2 separate regions of the Homo sapiens genome follow, and region 2 is linked to region 1. The links come from fine-mapping of genetic effects on gene expression. A gene starts in region 1. The other region holds a variant in brackets. All regions are shown on one strand. Distances are from middle to middle. Region 1 holds the start of GJA3 (gap junction protein alpha 3). Region 2 holds the start of LOC105370101 (a long non-coding RNA gene).

Evidence for each region.
Region 2: its variant is fine-mapped to the expression of GJA3 in whole blood (TOPMed, PIP 0.94).

Annotation. Positions count from the first base shown.
Region 1 is chr13:20,157,359-20,165,358 of GRCh38, forward strand. It overlaps GJA3 (gap junction protein alpha 3), which reads right to left and starts at 3,694. Exons shown (of 2, transcript NM_021954.4): 1 at 3,532-3,694. RefSeq lists silencers at 3,425-3,514, 3,675-3,754, 3,985-4,344.
Region 2 is chr13:20,114,702-20,122,897 of GRCh38, forward strand. It overlaps LOC105370101 (a long non-coding RNA gene), which reads right to left and starts at 5,088. Exons shown (of 3, transcript XR_941719.3): 1 at 5,004-5,088. RefSeq lists an enhancer at 3,568-3,617 and a silencer at 3,788-3,847. The variant C/T (reference allele first, on the strand shown) is at 4,307.

The DNA.
Region 1 (8,000 bases):
GGCAATTTCCTCATATAAATCCAAATGACATCCTTCAGGAACCTTACTCATTATCGACAGAAGAAATATGGAATCTTAGCATTTTGGCAAGGGATGAACCTTAGAAGTGGTCTAGTTTATGCTCCTTATTTTACAAACTGGGAAATGGCAGCTCAGAGAGGGTCCTGAGACTTGCCTAAAGTTGCACAGCCCACAGTGCTGACACCAGCACAGAAGTGCCCAACCTCCAACTCCTGGCCCAACTTCCCTTCCCCTCCCACACCACTTCATGGGCGATGCAGCAGGCAGACTGTTCAGCTTATGACACTATGTATTACATGCCTTTTGCATTTTATTATATTCTAACATACTGGAATACATATGTTTAGAAATGTGGGCTGGAGTACATGTTAAGCTTTCACTTTTTTTTTCCAGTCCAGACTGTCTCAAGGGGGGTATTTTTATCTTTTATAAAAATGGTTAAATATTACTGATATGCTAAGGACAGCCCAATTACTTCATCACAAATTTGAATTATCTTTTTTTTTTTTTCTGTCACACTTATGGCTTACTGCAGCCTCAATCTCTTGGGCTCAAATGATCCTCCTGCCTCAGCCTCCTGAGTAGCTGGGACTATAGGTTTGTACCACCACACTGGGCTAATTTTATAAAAAATATTTTGAAGTGACTGTATCTCACTATATTGCCTGGGCTGGTCTCAAACTCCTGGGCTCAAGAGATCCTCCTGCCTCAGCCTCCCAAAAAGTGCTGGGATTACATGCATGAGCCACCACACCCAGTCAGAATTATCTTTTTAAAGTAAATTCAGATATTTTTACTCTTGCTTAGTGAACAAAATCCCACAACCTGATAATTATGGTATTTTATTATTCCACTGATATTACTGATAAAAATTACATCTGTCAAAATATTTTCTATTTTTTTGCAGAAATAATTTCTATAGTATTAGTATGATTTCACTTTTCTTACTCAAATCTACTTCTATTGCTGTGTAACCAGAAATTGCTTCTATGTTCTAGAATAAAAGATTTATTTTAAAATCAACAGGAAATGGAGTTTCAGGAATAAATAAGCAATAATCCATGGAGATAATCAGGAGGTCTAAATGTAAAAAGCTAATTAATTTTTATATCTAGTATCATTAGTTTGTTAACAGTAAATTTAAAGCAAACCAATTCTTCAAATTAAATAAGACACATAAGAGTGTGGAAACTATTCACATCAACCATTACTTTTGGAGATGTACAGGAGTTTTAAAAAAGCAAGCAGTAGGCTGGGCGCGGTGGCTCACGCCTGTAATTCCAGCACTTTGGGAGGCTGAGGTGGGTGGATCACCTGAGGTCAGGAGTTTGAGACCAGCCTGTCCAACATGGTGAAACTGTGTCTCTACTAAAAATACAAAAATTAGCCAGGCGTGGTGGCGCATGCCTGTAATCCCAGCTACAAGGGAGGCTGAGGCAGGAGAATCGCTTTAACTGGGAGGCAGAAGTCGCAATGAGCCAAGACTGTGCCACTGTGCCATTGCACTCCAGCCTGGACAAGAGCAAAACTCTCAAAAAAAAAAAAAAAAAAAAAAAAGAAAAAGAAAAAGAAAAAAAGCAAGCAGTAGAGTACTAACCTAGTTATCATGAGGAATTTTCCACCACTGTAGGAATGAAAATTAAGATGAAACTTTATTATTTTTATTGCCTTTAAGCATTATACAGAAATTGCAGAAACATACTGTTTTTTAGAGACATATATGCTGTTGTCACATATATTGGATTTTTTCCCTCCTCAATTCAGTAAACATTTATTATTATTATAAAACATTATTACCTATTGTGTGTGGCACTGTGCCACACACTGAGGACAGCAAAACAATTAAGATCCAGTCCTCACTCTCAGGAGATTCATTTGCAATCTATGAGAGAGGCAGAGTGGCAAAAAACAGATCAAAATGTAAGTACTACATAGTACTGGGAATAGCTACCATCCAGCGGAGGGAGGAAGAAGGCATGGTGGTAGACGCCTGTAGTCCCAGCTACTCGGGAGGTTGCAGTGAGCCGAGATCGCACCACTGCACTCCAGCCTGGGTGACAGAGCGAGACTCCATCTCAAAAAAAAAAAAAAAAAAAAAAAAAAAAAAGGCTGCGATAAACGTAATTTTTCGTTTCAAATGTAGTGTGTACACGTTATTTTAGCTAAGAGAAATGAATATAATAAGTTAAAATGTGAGTAACATTCAAGAAAACTGGGTCAAAAATATTTTCCTTATTGGCAAAAAATTTTGTTACCCGCCATTCTTTTAAGACAGCTTTCAGCCAGTTAACGGTTCCTGGTTAAGAAACAGTACTGTCTGATTTGTTAGAGTAGTACCGTTTCGTGAATTACTTTCCACTACAGCAACACATGCATTGCCCTTATGAGATGCTTATCTCGATATGAACCAAACTGCTGAGCAGGTGGAATCTGTGCCAAACTAGCTGATGTTTACTTTGAACACACTGATATTCGGAAAATAAATCCCTCTTTTTTCCTCTTTAATCTTTTAATGTTTGTCTTGCACATGGATGGACCGCCAGTGAAGTGATGCGCACATCATAAATCACCATGGTTTTTAATTCCTGGGTGATGAGACCCATAATTCGCTTGTCAGCTGTTTGTATAGAATCATTTTTAAATGGCATGTTTTGGAGACATCTTGATAAAATAAAAACTGGAGTTCTAAAGTTGCAGTCACATATTCACGAACCGAGAACTCTACATGGTAGGATGAATTTTGCTCACTAGTGTGGAGTCGGCAACAAAGCAAATGCAGCCGCGTCACTGCCGTTTGTTTTCTCAAGTCTCCTACGGGAAGGGGCTCGGACAGTGCTTTTCCACTCCTCTGCAAATTCCTTATAGTTGAACACATCATAACAAACATACAGGTCGAGAAATCTGGTCGTGGCATTAATAGCTACAGTGTTTCTTAAAAATAAAAAGTTTTAAAAAGTTTCTGAAAAAAATGTAGGCGAGCCAACCTTGTTTCTAAACAATCCCAACAGGACTTTTAGGAGCACGGCGATGCTGAATGCCCGTGGACGGCTGGGTGCGCGCCGTTAGCTGGCGCGGTGACATCTGCTTAGAGTTTTCAAGCATTTCAGCATCGCTAGGAGCCCTACAGCCTGACGGTCCGGGACAGCCCGGCTTCCTCCACCCGAGGGGGAAAACAACCCCAGGAAAACAACTTAAACTCGGCCTTGGACTGTCCATCAAGGGAAGCCAAACGAGGCGCTGCTCTCCAGACCTCCAGGAGCAAAGGAGGAAGATCAATTATTCCAAAAGTTTCTCACAAATTTCCCGAGCTCCCCACAACTTTTTGAAGAATCCTGAAAGAATCCTAGGGGGCTGGGAGCCGCACACGTGCCGGGGCTCGGCTTCCCAGCTCGGCAGTCTCAGCCCGCTGGGCTCGCCCGGCAGCTCCGCTGCGCCGCCGACCCGCCCGTCCCCGCCCCGCGCTGCCCTCGGCCCCTGTGCCTGGCCTCCGGGGCGCCCGGCCCGCCTTACCCCGCTCTGCCGCGGCGGCGACCCGGGTGCGTTCCTCCGGAGCAGGGCTCCCGGCCGCTCTGAAAAGAATTCCTTTCACACGTGCGGTGCTGCTTCACGCGTGCGCCCCGCGCCAGGGCCCGACCTCCCCGCCCTGATCGCCATCCCTGCAGCCCCAGTGTGCGCTGCGCCCGACGCCCCCAAGCTGCAGCTCAGGACGCCGCGCCACGCCCCCGCCGCCTCCGAACAGCCCCGCCCCGCGCGCTTCCCAGCACGCACACCTACCGCCCCCGCATCCCTACCCTGTACGCGCAGCCACAGCACTCGCCCGCGTCCGCATTCCACACCCTACCCCGCGCGCACGTCCATGCCTAGCGCCTGCATCCCCATCCCGCACCTGCGCGGGCCCTGGGGATGTGGACGCGGGGGCTCTTCCCTGCCGCCTACGCACTCCGGGGCATGCCCGCGCGGGACGTGAGAGGAGAGCCGAGGGCTGTTGGGGCGGGCCCGACCCGCTTGCGGGGCGCCCACCGCACGCAGATGCGCCAGCCCGCGCCCCGCTCGCGCCTGTCCTGGGCTTCGCAGGCCCGGCGAGGTAGCTGCTCTCCGGGCGCTCCCACGGTCGGAGGCGCGTGGGCGTCGGGCACCTAGGTCTCGCCCGCCTGCAGCCGCCTGGGGACGCGGGTTCCGGACGGCTGGCGCGGGGCGGGGCGGGGACCACCGAGCAGGAAGTCCCCGCGGAAGCGCCGCCGGGCACAGCGTGGGTGCTGTCGAGGAGTGGCGCCCGGGCGGGGCGGGAGGTTATAAATAGCGGCCGCCATCCTGCTTCTCTTCAGACACACTTAATTTAGCCGGCAGGCACACGGATGCTTATTTTTAAAAAAAGAACTTGTTTTATTGCGCTCGAGGTGACCGGGAAGGTGTCCCCGCGGGTCACTCGCTCCATCTGGTCCTGGAGACGAGATGCCAGGGCGAGGCCTAACCTGCCTGCTGGCGCCCAACGAAGATTTTAACGTTTTCTGTTCCCTTCGGGGTGGTTTTACCACGCTTGAGAGGGACGCCTACCGCGGAAGGCCGCGGACCGAGGGCGGCATCGCGTCCTTGTCTGCTGTCTGGGCACAGCCTAGAGAGGCCGCGGGTCCCCTCCCCGTCCCCCAAGGTCTGGAGTGGGGTTTGACCAGCCTGGGATATTAACAAATATCGGTGGACTGCATTTCGGTGATCATTCCACAAGCTGAAATGGCTTCAAAATCACCTTTATGAGTAATAAGTTTATTCCAGGAATGTGGCAAAATGCAAGTCTGATAGTTTTCGTGTCTTCATGGAGCAGCTTCCGTCGGCTGCCTTCGTTAGCGTTTAGATCTACTCGGATTAGCAGTTGGCTTGCCCTGAAAAATGCGTTTGTTCTGCTGAGATCTGAATTTAAAGTTATCCCAAGGAGGAAAAACTAAGCTCCTAAAGGCGCATCTAAAATATCTTCTCCCTTTGGGAACTTTGCGGTGTATGTATGGAGTAGGTAGTAGTTACGGAGACTTAGTTTTTAATTTTTAATTGAAAAATGCTACCTTTGAAGGTCTTAAAATACTTGAATATTTTTCTCATTTAAAACATTTTCTCTGAGAAGCACAGGAATAGTTTTTTTTTTTTTGTTGATCACAAAAGCACTAGGAATTGTTAATATTTGTAGTCTGTTTGCCAAATGCTATTATTGGTATTCTGAGGATAAAAATGGAAATATAATATTGTAATAATTTTAAAATTTTTATTAAAATATAGATTTTAAATTATATTATGTAATTCGAACAAATATTTTACATATATGTTCATACAAGCATTATTTACTATAGCCAAAAGGTGTCCATCAATGGATGAATGGATAAACAAAATGTATTGCATACCTACAGTGGAATATTATTCAGCCTTAAAAAGGGAGAGCCCCATCACATGCTACAACGTGGACGAACCTTGAGTACATTATGCTAAATGAAATAAGCCAGTCACAAAAGTCACAAATACTGTATGATTCCATTTACATGAGGTACCTACAGCAGTCAAAATCATAGAGACGGAAAGTAGAAGTGTGGTTACCAGCAGCTGGGGCAGTGGGAAACGGGAAGATAGAGTTTCATAGGTACGGAGTTTTAGTTTGGGAAGATAGAAATAGTTTTGGAAGCAGATGATGGTAATGGTTGCATAACAATGTGAATGTACTTAATGCCACAGAACTGTACACATTAAGAAAGGTTAAATGGTAAATTAAAGGTTATGTATATTTTACTACCATAAAACAATTTTTAAAGTGGTATTGTGTAAAGACCAGCACAACTAAGAAGCTAGCAGTTTCTTTACACTTGTCATACTGTACAATTTCTAGGTAGACAACTAAGATGTTCATCTTATGGTTTAATGTTTAGTTGTAAAGGTTGTTTGCTTCTCATTTGGTTCCAAGAAAGAGTATTTAGGCCAATTTCAGGGAGAAATATGTGTATAGATATATTCATATGTCAAACTGATTAGTGCTGAATGTCACATTTCCATATTCTAATAACATTTCTAGCAAAGAAGAGGACACAGTGAAGAGAGAATTGCCCGCATTGTCATTGTCTCTTTCTGAGCCTAGAACGCCTAACACTTGGGTGTGGAGAGACTCAGCCTCAATTCACTTTCTAGCAGCCACTGAGATGTGCTTGCCTGGGGTGCCCCCTGGCAGGCAGGGCTGGAACTGCTTTCCAGTACCCACACGGACTGTGAACGAATCTTTCTTTGTGCTTTGTGTACAGAATGGAAGTTCAACAAATATTTGTTGAATGTGTATGTCCTTCCAATACGCAGCAGCCCAGAGCAAACGTGGTAATCTTGTGTGTGTTCATGTGAAAGCAGAATTTAATGGTGCTTTTAAGCACCAAAGTTTAAGATGCACGAGAAAACTGTATCTCCATTTTTTCCTTTTCGTTTACAATTACTTGTATAAGCCAGGCACGGTGGTGGCTCACGCCTGTAATCCCAGCACTTTGGGAGGCCGAGGCGGGCGGATCACATGAGGTCGGGAGCTTGATACCAGCCTGGCCAACGTGGTGAAACCCCGTTGCTACTAAAAATACAAAAATTAGCCGTGTGTGGCGGCACCTGCCTGTAATCCCAACTACTCAGGAGGCTGAGGCAGGAGAATCACTTGAACCGGGGAAGCGGAGGTTGCAGTGAGCTGAGACTGCACCACTGTACTCCAGCCTGGGTGACAGAGCAAGACTCCATCTCAAAACAAAAACAAAAAAACAAAAACAAAATTACTTGTATAGACCGTCACTATTCCTTACTTACTATGCTGATTGACAATGTATAGTATTTCAGTTACTCTGCGGGCTATAAATAGCTCTAATAGCACTTAAAAAAATGAATCCAGCTGGGTGTGGTAGCTCATGCCTGTAATCCCAGCACTTTAGGAGGCCGAGGCGGGTGGATCACCCGAGGTCGGGAGTTTGAGACCAGCTTGGCCAACATGATGAAACTCTGTTTCTACTAAAAATACAAAAAATTAGCCGGGCATGGTGGGGTGGTGCGCACCTGTAATCCCAGCTACTCGGGAGGCAGAGGCAGGAGAATTGCTTGAACCTGGGAGGTGGAGGTTGCAGTGAGCTGAGATCGTGCCACTGCGCTCCAGCCTGGGCAACAAGAGCAAAACTCCATCTCAAAAAAAAAAAAAAAAAAAAAAAAAAAAACGAATTCCAGCAATCCAACTTTTATTTATTGAACTTCTCCTCATACAAGGCCTTGGGCTGGGTGTTGACGGATGGGAAGGTTCCACTTTCTCTACTCAGAGAATTCATTGCGCCCAGCTCTGTGCCAATTTTTGTCCACAGGAGGATTTTACAATCTGTTGTTTCTGAATCACAAAGTATTAATTAACAAACAGTTAGCGGGTGTGGTGGATCATGCCTGTAATTCCAGCACTTTTAGAGGCCAAGGCAGGAGGATTGCTTGAGCCCAGGAGTTCGAGACTAGCCTGGGCAATACAGTGAGATGCTCCCCTACCCCAACCCCCCATCCAGTCTCCACAAAAATATTAAAAAATTAACCTGGCAAGGTGGCTCGTGCCTTTAGTCCCAGCTACTCAGGAGGCTGAAGTGGAAGGATTGCTTGAGCCTGGGAGGTCGAGGCTGCAGTGAGCCATGCCCCTCCACTCCAGCCTGAGTGACAGAGCAAGGCCCTGTCTCTAAAATAAAATAAAATAAAAATAAATAAAATAAAATAAAATCCATGGGATAATTTCTATGAAGTGATTGCAACTTGGAGAAAAATATAAACAAGCAGTGTTTATTTCTTATCTCGCATGTGGAAAAATGAGATTTGCATGTCTCATATGGGCTCTGCAGGCCTTGGAAATGTCCCCTGTGGAAATTTTCTGGGCTGTGCAGTTAATACAACCTGTATCCAACTCTCGTCGGATAATTTATTTAATTCCAGAAAATTGGGTAGTCAGAATGGAGGGTGGC
Region 2 (8,196 bases), 43 kb before region 1:
CAGGACCAGGCACTGTTGCTCATGCCTGTAATCCCAGCCCTTTGGGAGGCCGAGGTGGGCAGATCACCTGAGGTCAGGAGTTCAAGACCAGCCTGGCCAACATGGAAAAACCACATCTCTACCAAAAATACAAAAAACAAAATTAGCTGGGCATGGTGGCAGGTGCCTGTAGTCCCAGCTACTCGGGAGGCTGGGGTAGGAGAATCACTTGAACCTGGGAGGTGGAGGTTGTAGTGGGCTGAGATGGCACCACTGCACTCCAGCCTGGGCAACAGAGCAAGACTCCATCTCAAAAAAAAAAAAAAAGAAAACGGAGAAGAAAATTATCTCATATATATATGTATATTAATATATACATATACACATACATATATACGTACATATATATATATTCAGGAAAACAGGCTTCCTAAAGAAAGCAAATTGTAGGCAGGAGAATTGCAGTGTTAGAAGTTTATGGATATGCAAAGCATCTTTTCTCCAATGGGCCCACAGCACTGTAGCTGACTTGCTTAACAAGCAGCATTTATGGTCCGTTAACCACCCACTTCTCCTGAAAACAGAAAAATCATTACTGGATGGTGCTGGGGTTACAGTCCTATTTAGGTTATTGTGACAATGTCCCTACACTAGCATTGCATCCTCGTCTCACAAGACACTCCCTCTGGGGCTACTCCTGGCCTTATTTTTTTATTTTTTATTTTTATTTTTTTGAGATGGAATCTTGCTCTATTGCCCAGGCTGGAGTGCAGTGGCGTGATCTCAGCTCACTGCAGCCTCTGCCTCCTGGGTTCCAGCGATTCTCCTGCCTCAGCCTCCTGGGTAGCTGGGATTACAGGCGCTCACCACCACACCTGGCTAATTTTTGTATTTTTAGTAGGGATGGTGTTTTGCCATGTTGGCCAGGGTGGTCTTGAACTCTTGATCTCAGATGATCCACCTGCCTTGGCCTCCCAAAGTGCTGGGATTACAGGCATGAACCACTGCGCCCGGCCTCATTTTTAATTATAAATATGTATACTATTAATGGCATTTGCCCCTTTATATCGGGTATGGTTATAAAAAAATAGTGCATTATAGAGACCATAGAAAATAAAATAAAGGACTAAGAACTGTGGCTCATGTCTGTAATCCCAGCACTTTGGGAAGTCAAGGCAGGAGGATAGCTTGAGGTCAGGAGGTCAAGAGCAGCCTGGGCAACATAGCGAGATCCCATCTCTACAAAAAAAAAAATAGTCCCAGCTACTCTGGAGGCTGAGGTGGGAGGATGGCTTGAACCCAGGAGGTCAAGGCTGTAGTGAACTATGATGGGGCCACTGCACTCCAGCCTGGATGACAGAGAGAGACTTTGTCTCTTTAAAAAAAAAAAAAAGAAGGTAAAATAAATAAGAATCATCTGTAATTCCAGAAATAATCATTGTCACTTCATTCTAGTCTTTCTTTAGGATCTATAACCATGTTGTCCCTACCTGTCTGGCTTTTCACATCAACCCTGTGAAATCTGCTTGGGGAACTAGCAGCAAGGACAACACTCCACCTTTGAATAACTGAAGCAGAGCTTAATGAAGAGATTACTCACCGGTCATCTAGAGACCACAGGGACAGTGCAGGGACTGTCAGAAGGGGGGACAGAGTGGGCAGCTCCCTTTGCTCCCTGCCAGGGCTCCTGGGGTGGGTAGGGCCGCCACAGTTCAGGCGGATAGTGGAGCCCCTAGTGGTGTCGGAGGACTGTCCTGTATTTTGGTAACTAAGTCAACAAGGCCCGAGAAAGTCCCCTGAGGCTGGATTTGGCCCATGAGCCTTCAGTTTGAGACTTTTGTGGGGTACTTTTTCTTCTTCCTTTTTAGAGACAAGATCTTGCTCTGTTACACAGGCTGAAGTGCAGTGTGGCATGATCGTAGCTCACTGCAGCCTCAACCTCCTGGGCTCTAGTGATCCTCCCTCCTCAGCCTCCCCAAGTAGCTGGAACTACAGGTGTACACAATGACAACTGGTTTGTTTTTTGAGTAAACTTTTTATTGACATGTAATCCATACACACAAATCTAATAAAGCCATTAAAAACTCCCATTTTTCTATTTTTTAAATGTGACCTGAAAAATTTCTTAGAGTTGAAGTTAATTTTAAAAATGAAAATAACTTTTATAAAAATTATGAAAACAACATAAACTCACTTTAGAAAAATCAGAAAATAGAGATGAGTATAAAGAAGATAGTTGAAATCAAAGTAACCTTTAAGTTAGTGATGTCCAAAGGGTTTAGACTGTAAAGGACCAAATAAAGAAGGTAGGGGCTTGAAGCCCCATAGAGTAACTCTACATTTGGTTTAAAGAATCAGGAAAGTTCTTAAGTTAAAGTTTCCTGCATTAGTTAATTTCAGGCATTAGTTAAAATTCCAGGATGAAGTGTTTGGGGGGACTTTTGAATAATTTTGATGTTTGTAACCATCGGTGGATATAATCTGTTTTGCGTAAAGCTTAATTCTTTAATTAAATGAGTTTTTAAGAAACTCTTTCTTTTGAGGACTATTGTTTTTAACTTCATAAAAAGAAATTATTAAATACACTATTTAATTTTAATAGATATGGTGTATGCTCACATCTGTAATCTCAGCACTTTGGGAGGCTGAAGCGGAGGATTGCATAAGCCCAGGAGTTCAAGACCAGCCTGGGCAACATAGTGAGACCTTGTCTCTACAAAAAATTATAAAATAAAATAAAATAATAAAATAAATTGCCAAGCACAGTGGTGCTTGCCTGTAGTCCCAGTTAGTAGGGAGGCTGATGTGGGGGAGGCTGAGATGGGAGAATGGTTTGAGCTTGGGAGGCTGAGGCTGCAGTGAGCTGTGACTGCTTCACTCACTCCAGCCTGGGTAACACAGCAAGACCTTCTCAAAAAAATAAATACACTACAGTAAAAATTTCTCCAATAGACTTATGTTATTGTCAAATATGGTAAAAAAAAAAAACAAAAAAAAAACCAGACACTTTCTAACATCAGGAGGAGCAGCATTTAAAATATGATAGTCTTGCAAATAAATGAATAAATGATATAATTCTTTGTTATGACTATTACTAGCTGTGGTGGTTTTAAAATATGCCCACATATTCTTTTTTTTTTTTTTTTTGAGGCAGAGTTGCACTCTGTCACCCAGGCTGGAGTGCAGTGGCACCATCACCATCTCACCTCACTGCAACCTCTGCTTCCCGGGTTCAAGCGATTCTCCTGCCCCAGCCTCCTGAGTAGCTGGGATTACAGGCAACCGCCATCACGCCCGGCTACTTTTTGTATTTTTATTAGAGACGGGGTTTCACCTTGTTGGGGTTTCACCTTGTTGGCGAGGCTGGTCTCGAACTCCTGACCTCAAGCGATCCACCCACCTCGGCCTCCCAAAAGTGCTGGGATTACAGGCGTGAGCCACTGCGCCTGGCCACATTTTCTTTTGAACTACCAGTGAAAATAGCTCTATTGAATCGGGGGTGAGGAGTATCAATTTTCCTACAACTTCTGTGTCCTGCTTTATTGACCAGCCGAGCATCAGTGACATAAATGGGGGGCCTTTCCGTTCCAAAGCAGATATTCTGGGCTATCTGACCTAACTCAGAGGAGGCAGCCTCACCATCCCACACCTGTCATCCTAGCGCTCAGGCCAGGCCCCTGGCGGGGAGCCTCCAAGGGATGACAGCGTGGCCCGCCCGAGGCCACAGGGAGGTGGGCGAGCTGTCACCTTCGATGGGACAGCCCGGGCTGCGTCCTGAGCACCCGGCCTGCCCAGGTGGCCTGGATCCTCGGCGGGGTCCCCATCCCTCTGCTCCGAGTGCGCCGAGGGCCGCGTGGAGCCCGGAGCGCCAGGGAGGGAGCCTGGAGGGCCGCCTGTCTTTTCGAGCTGCGCTTCCAGGGACTTCGCGTTTGTGCCTGGCGGGCTGCGGTTGGAAGAAAAGTGCCAACATGGCAGCTCCAGGGTCAGGCCCCTTCTTCCAGGAGGCGTTTCTCAGCCACACCAACGCGGCACTTCTTTTCCCTTTTGGCACAGAAGTGAGGAAGAGCAGCTGAGCTGGTCTCGGTCTCCCAGCTCCTGCAGTCTGAGGACCCCGGGATGCTCCAGCCAGGGCAGACCCGCGCGGGGGGTGCCCTTCCCCCACCCCCTTCCCTGCGGGATGCCCCCTTCCCTCGCCTCCCCCGCGGGGTGCCCCTTCGCTTCCCTCCCCACCCCTTCCCCGCGGGGTGCCCCTCCTCCCGGTGTCGCCTCCTTTCAGGTGCCTGCCCCTCCCCCATGTGTCTCCGCCCACGTCCGCCCCACCCCCACG[C/T]GTGTCGCCCCCGCCCCGTGTCCTCCCCCGCCCCTGTGGAAGGGAGGCTGGGGCTCCCGGGACCAGCAGGGAAGCAGCTGGCAGAGAACGTTGAGTGTTCTCTCTGCCAGGGCCTTCACCACCCTTTTCGGGGCCCTCACCCCGACCCACACCGCTTCCATTCTTGGGTGCAAAGGGCCTTCCTTAACAGTCGGCGGCAGCTCTGGGGCCGGCGCATTTTTTTCTGTGGGGGACACCCGGCACAAGAAGGGTGGAGGAATGGGGCTGCGCGTCACTCCCACAGCTTCTTAGAGAGCCGTTCGCAAGGAGGACCGAGTGTCACGTGAGTGAGCTGGAGGAGGTCACGTTACCTTCCTCCTGTGAGAGGCTCAAACACAGCTCAGGATTTTACCAGTATGGAGAGAAGAAACCTTCAGGCGGGGCGCGGTGGCGCTCCTGTGGCCCCAGCTACTCTGGAGGCCGAAACAGGAGGATTGCTTGTGCCCGAGTCGAGGCTGCAGTGAAGCCGATTGTTTCACTTTACTCCAGCCTGGGCAACAGAGCAAGACCCTGCCCCGACCCCCAAACACACACACACACACACACACACACACACACACACACACACAGAGAGAGAAAGAAAAAGAAACTTTCGGGAACCGGACAGCTTTTCTGTGCACTGGAAGGCACTCACCCCCCTGGCCTGGTAGACTCCTACCCATGAATCTGATGTCAGCTCAGACGTCTTCCTCCAGCTGCCTGTAGGACGCCTAGACCAGAAAGGGCGCCTCTAGATGCCCTCCTAGTTCTCAGGCCTTTTTCTTCATAGCACGTGTCACCGTTTGTGAGAACAAGTGATTTCTATGATTGAGAACTGTCTCCCCTTCTCGTCTGTGAGCCCTGTCAGTTCGGGGTGTCTGATTCTGCTCCCATGCTCAGTACCCAGAGGCTGATACATAGTATGCACTCGATAAAAAAAGGTTTTTGAGTGAATGAATCAATGTATCTGATCCCAGCTCTGCCTTTTACTAGCTCTGTGACACACTCAGATACTTAGCGTCTCTGAGTTTTACCTTCCACATGTGCACAGTGGTGCTAAGTGTTAAATAAGATTTATGGGAGGCCATTGAATTGGGCTGAGCTCCTGCACTAGGCCCCAGTAGGCCAGACCAAAATGGAATCACTTGTGCTAAGTGCCACGTAATCAAACTGAAACTTAAACAAAACAGGAAAATCCCCCACCAGGGCCAGTTTTCCTGAAAAAATAGGAGACTACCAGCAACCAGTCAAAAGGGGGCCAGTCCACTTGAGCCTGCATAAGAGAGGTTTCCTCCGCTTAAACTCATACAAGGAAATGTGGAGGGGTCCAGGTTGTTGGCGTTTTGAGCAAAGAATTGAACAAAACGCACAAACAAAGCAAGGAAAGAAGGAAGCAACAAAAGGAGAGATTTATCGAAAATGAAAGTACGCTCCACAGGGTGGGAGCCGCTGGAGCATAGGGGCTCTTTTTACAGAATTTTCTGGGGTTTAAATACCTTCTAGAGGTTTCCCATTGGTTACCTGGTGTACACTCTATGTAAATGAAGTAGTGACCTGCAACCAGAGGCTGAGGTGAAGTTACAAAGGTTACACCCGATGCAAGCCTCTGTTTGCAAAGTGAAGTTACAAAGTTACAGTTCTATGCAAAGGAAGACTTGGCCCACAATCAAGCTGATTGGTTGTGGGAAGCGACCAATCAGAGGCTGAAGTGAAGTTACAAAGTTACAATCCTATGTAAACGTCTGATTGGCTGCCCTCAGAGACACTTTCAATTTTCCATCTGCCAGGCAGAAAAGGGTGGGGGTTTGCAAAGGGAGTAGCCTCCGGTTTTTTGTTTGTTTTTTCTTTTTTGAGACGGAGTTTCACTCTTGTCGCTCAGGCTACAGTGCAACGGCGCGATCTCCGCTCACTGCAACCTACGCCGCCCGGGTTCAAGCGATTCTCCTGCCTCAGTCTCCCGAGTAGCTGGGGTTACAGGCGCCCGCCAACACGCCAGACTAATTTTTGTATTTTTAGTGGAGACGGGGTTTCACCACGTTGGCCAGGCTGGGCTGAAACTCCTGACCTCAGGTGATCCGCCCACCTCGACCTCCCAAAGTGCTGGGATTACAGGCGTGAGCCACCATGCCCGGCTACCTCCGGTTTTTTTGTTACTTAGGTGTGAAAAGTTGGGGTTTTCCTTTTGATTTAGTTCTAGGAAGTCAGCGTGAAATCGGCCTTAGGTTCCCTGCCTCCAGACCCTATTCTCCGCCTCAGAAAGTCACCCAATGATAACCAATGCACTTTTCTCACCACACGATTTCCTCATTCCTGCTTGAGCTGCCTTACCAAAGCCGATTGTTCTGCAACACCCAGCCGAGTGCCTTCTGTTTTGTAGTCTGGAGGCTGCCTGTTTCATACATTGCTAATAAGAGTCAATTAAATCTTTAAAACTCAATTTGTCAAAATGTTGTTCTTTGGTGTCAGAGACCAATACTGTAGGGAATTTGTGTTCATTGACTGAGCTCAAGTACATAGAACAGCTGGAGGGAAGAGACGCGCAGGGCAAGGTATGAGGTGGGGGCTGCAGGTGCACCACATTCCCACAACTTGGAAACTCTTCCAACCTGCTTGTTCAAGAGCTTTTTTAGAGCTTGATTTCTAGTCCCCTCCCCTTCTCACAGGTCTAGGGGTGAGGCTGAAGGATCCAACCTCCTACTTACCTGGTCTTTCCGGTGACCAACCCCATCCTGAAGCTATCTAAGGGTTCACCCTAAGTCACCTCAGTAGCATAAACTCAGATGTGATCAATAGGTGCTTCATTATGAATAACAAAAGACACTACTATCACTCAGGAAATTCTAAGGGCTTTAGCGGCTCTGTGCTAGGAACCAGGGACAAAGACCAAATATATTTCTCTAAATGTACCCTATCATCCTAATGGGCTCAAGGTGGTATCTTATTGTGGTTTCGATTTGCCCTTTCCCCAGTGATTACTGACATTCAGCATCTTTGGTGCTTATTAGCAATTTGTATGTATTCTTTGGAGAACTGTTTATTCATGTCCTTTGCCCATTTTAAAATTGGGTTGTTTGGGTTGTGCGTGGTGGCTCCTGCCTGTAATCCCAGCATTTTAGGAGGCCGAGGTGGGCAGATCACCTGAGGTCAGGAGTTCAAGACCAGCCTGGCCAACATGGTGAAACCCCGTCTCTACTAAAATTACAAAAATTAGCAGGGCATGGTGGCAGACGCCTGTAATCCCAGCACTTTGGGAGGCTGGGGTGGGGGAATCACGAGGTCAAGAGATCGAAACCATCCTGACCAACATGGTGAAACTCCGTCTCTACTAAAAATATGAAAATTAGCTGGGCATGGTGGCACGTGCCTGTAATCCCAGCTACTCGGGAGGCTGAGGCTCGAGAATTGCTTGAACCTGGGAGGCAGAGGTTGCAGTGAGCCGAGACTGTGCCACTGCACTCCAGCCCCAGTGACAAGAGTGAAACTCAGTCTCAAAAAAGAAAAAAACCAAAAAAACAAAAATTGGGTTGTTTATTTTTTTGTCATTGAGTTTAGGAGTTTTTTGTTTTTTGTAGTTGAGGGTTTGTTGTTGTTGTTGAGTTGCTTATATAGTCTGAATATTAAACCCTTATCAGATATATGATTTACAAACATTTTCTCTCATTCTGTGGGCTGCCCTCTGTTGATAATGTCCTTCGATACACAACAGTTTTTACTTTTGATTGATTTGTCTATTTTTCTTGTTGTTTGTGCTTTTGGTGTTGTAGCCAGGAAACCACTGATGCTAAATCCAGTGTCATAAAGCTTTCCCCTTGTTTTATTCTAAGAGTTTTACAGTTTTAGCTTCTACATTTAGGCCTTTAATTTTTTTTTTT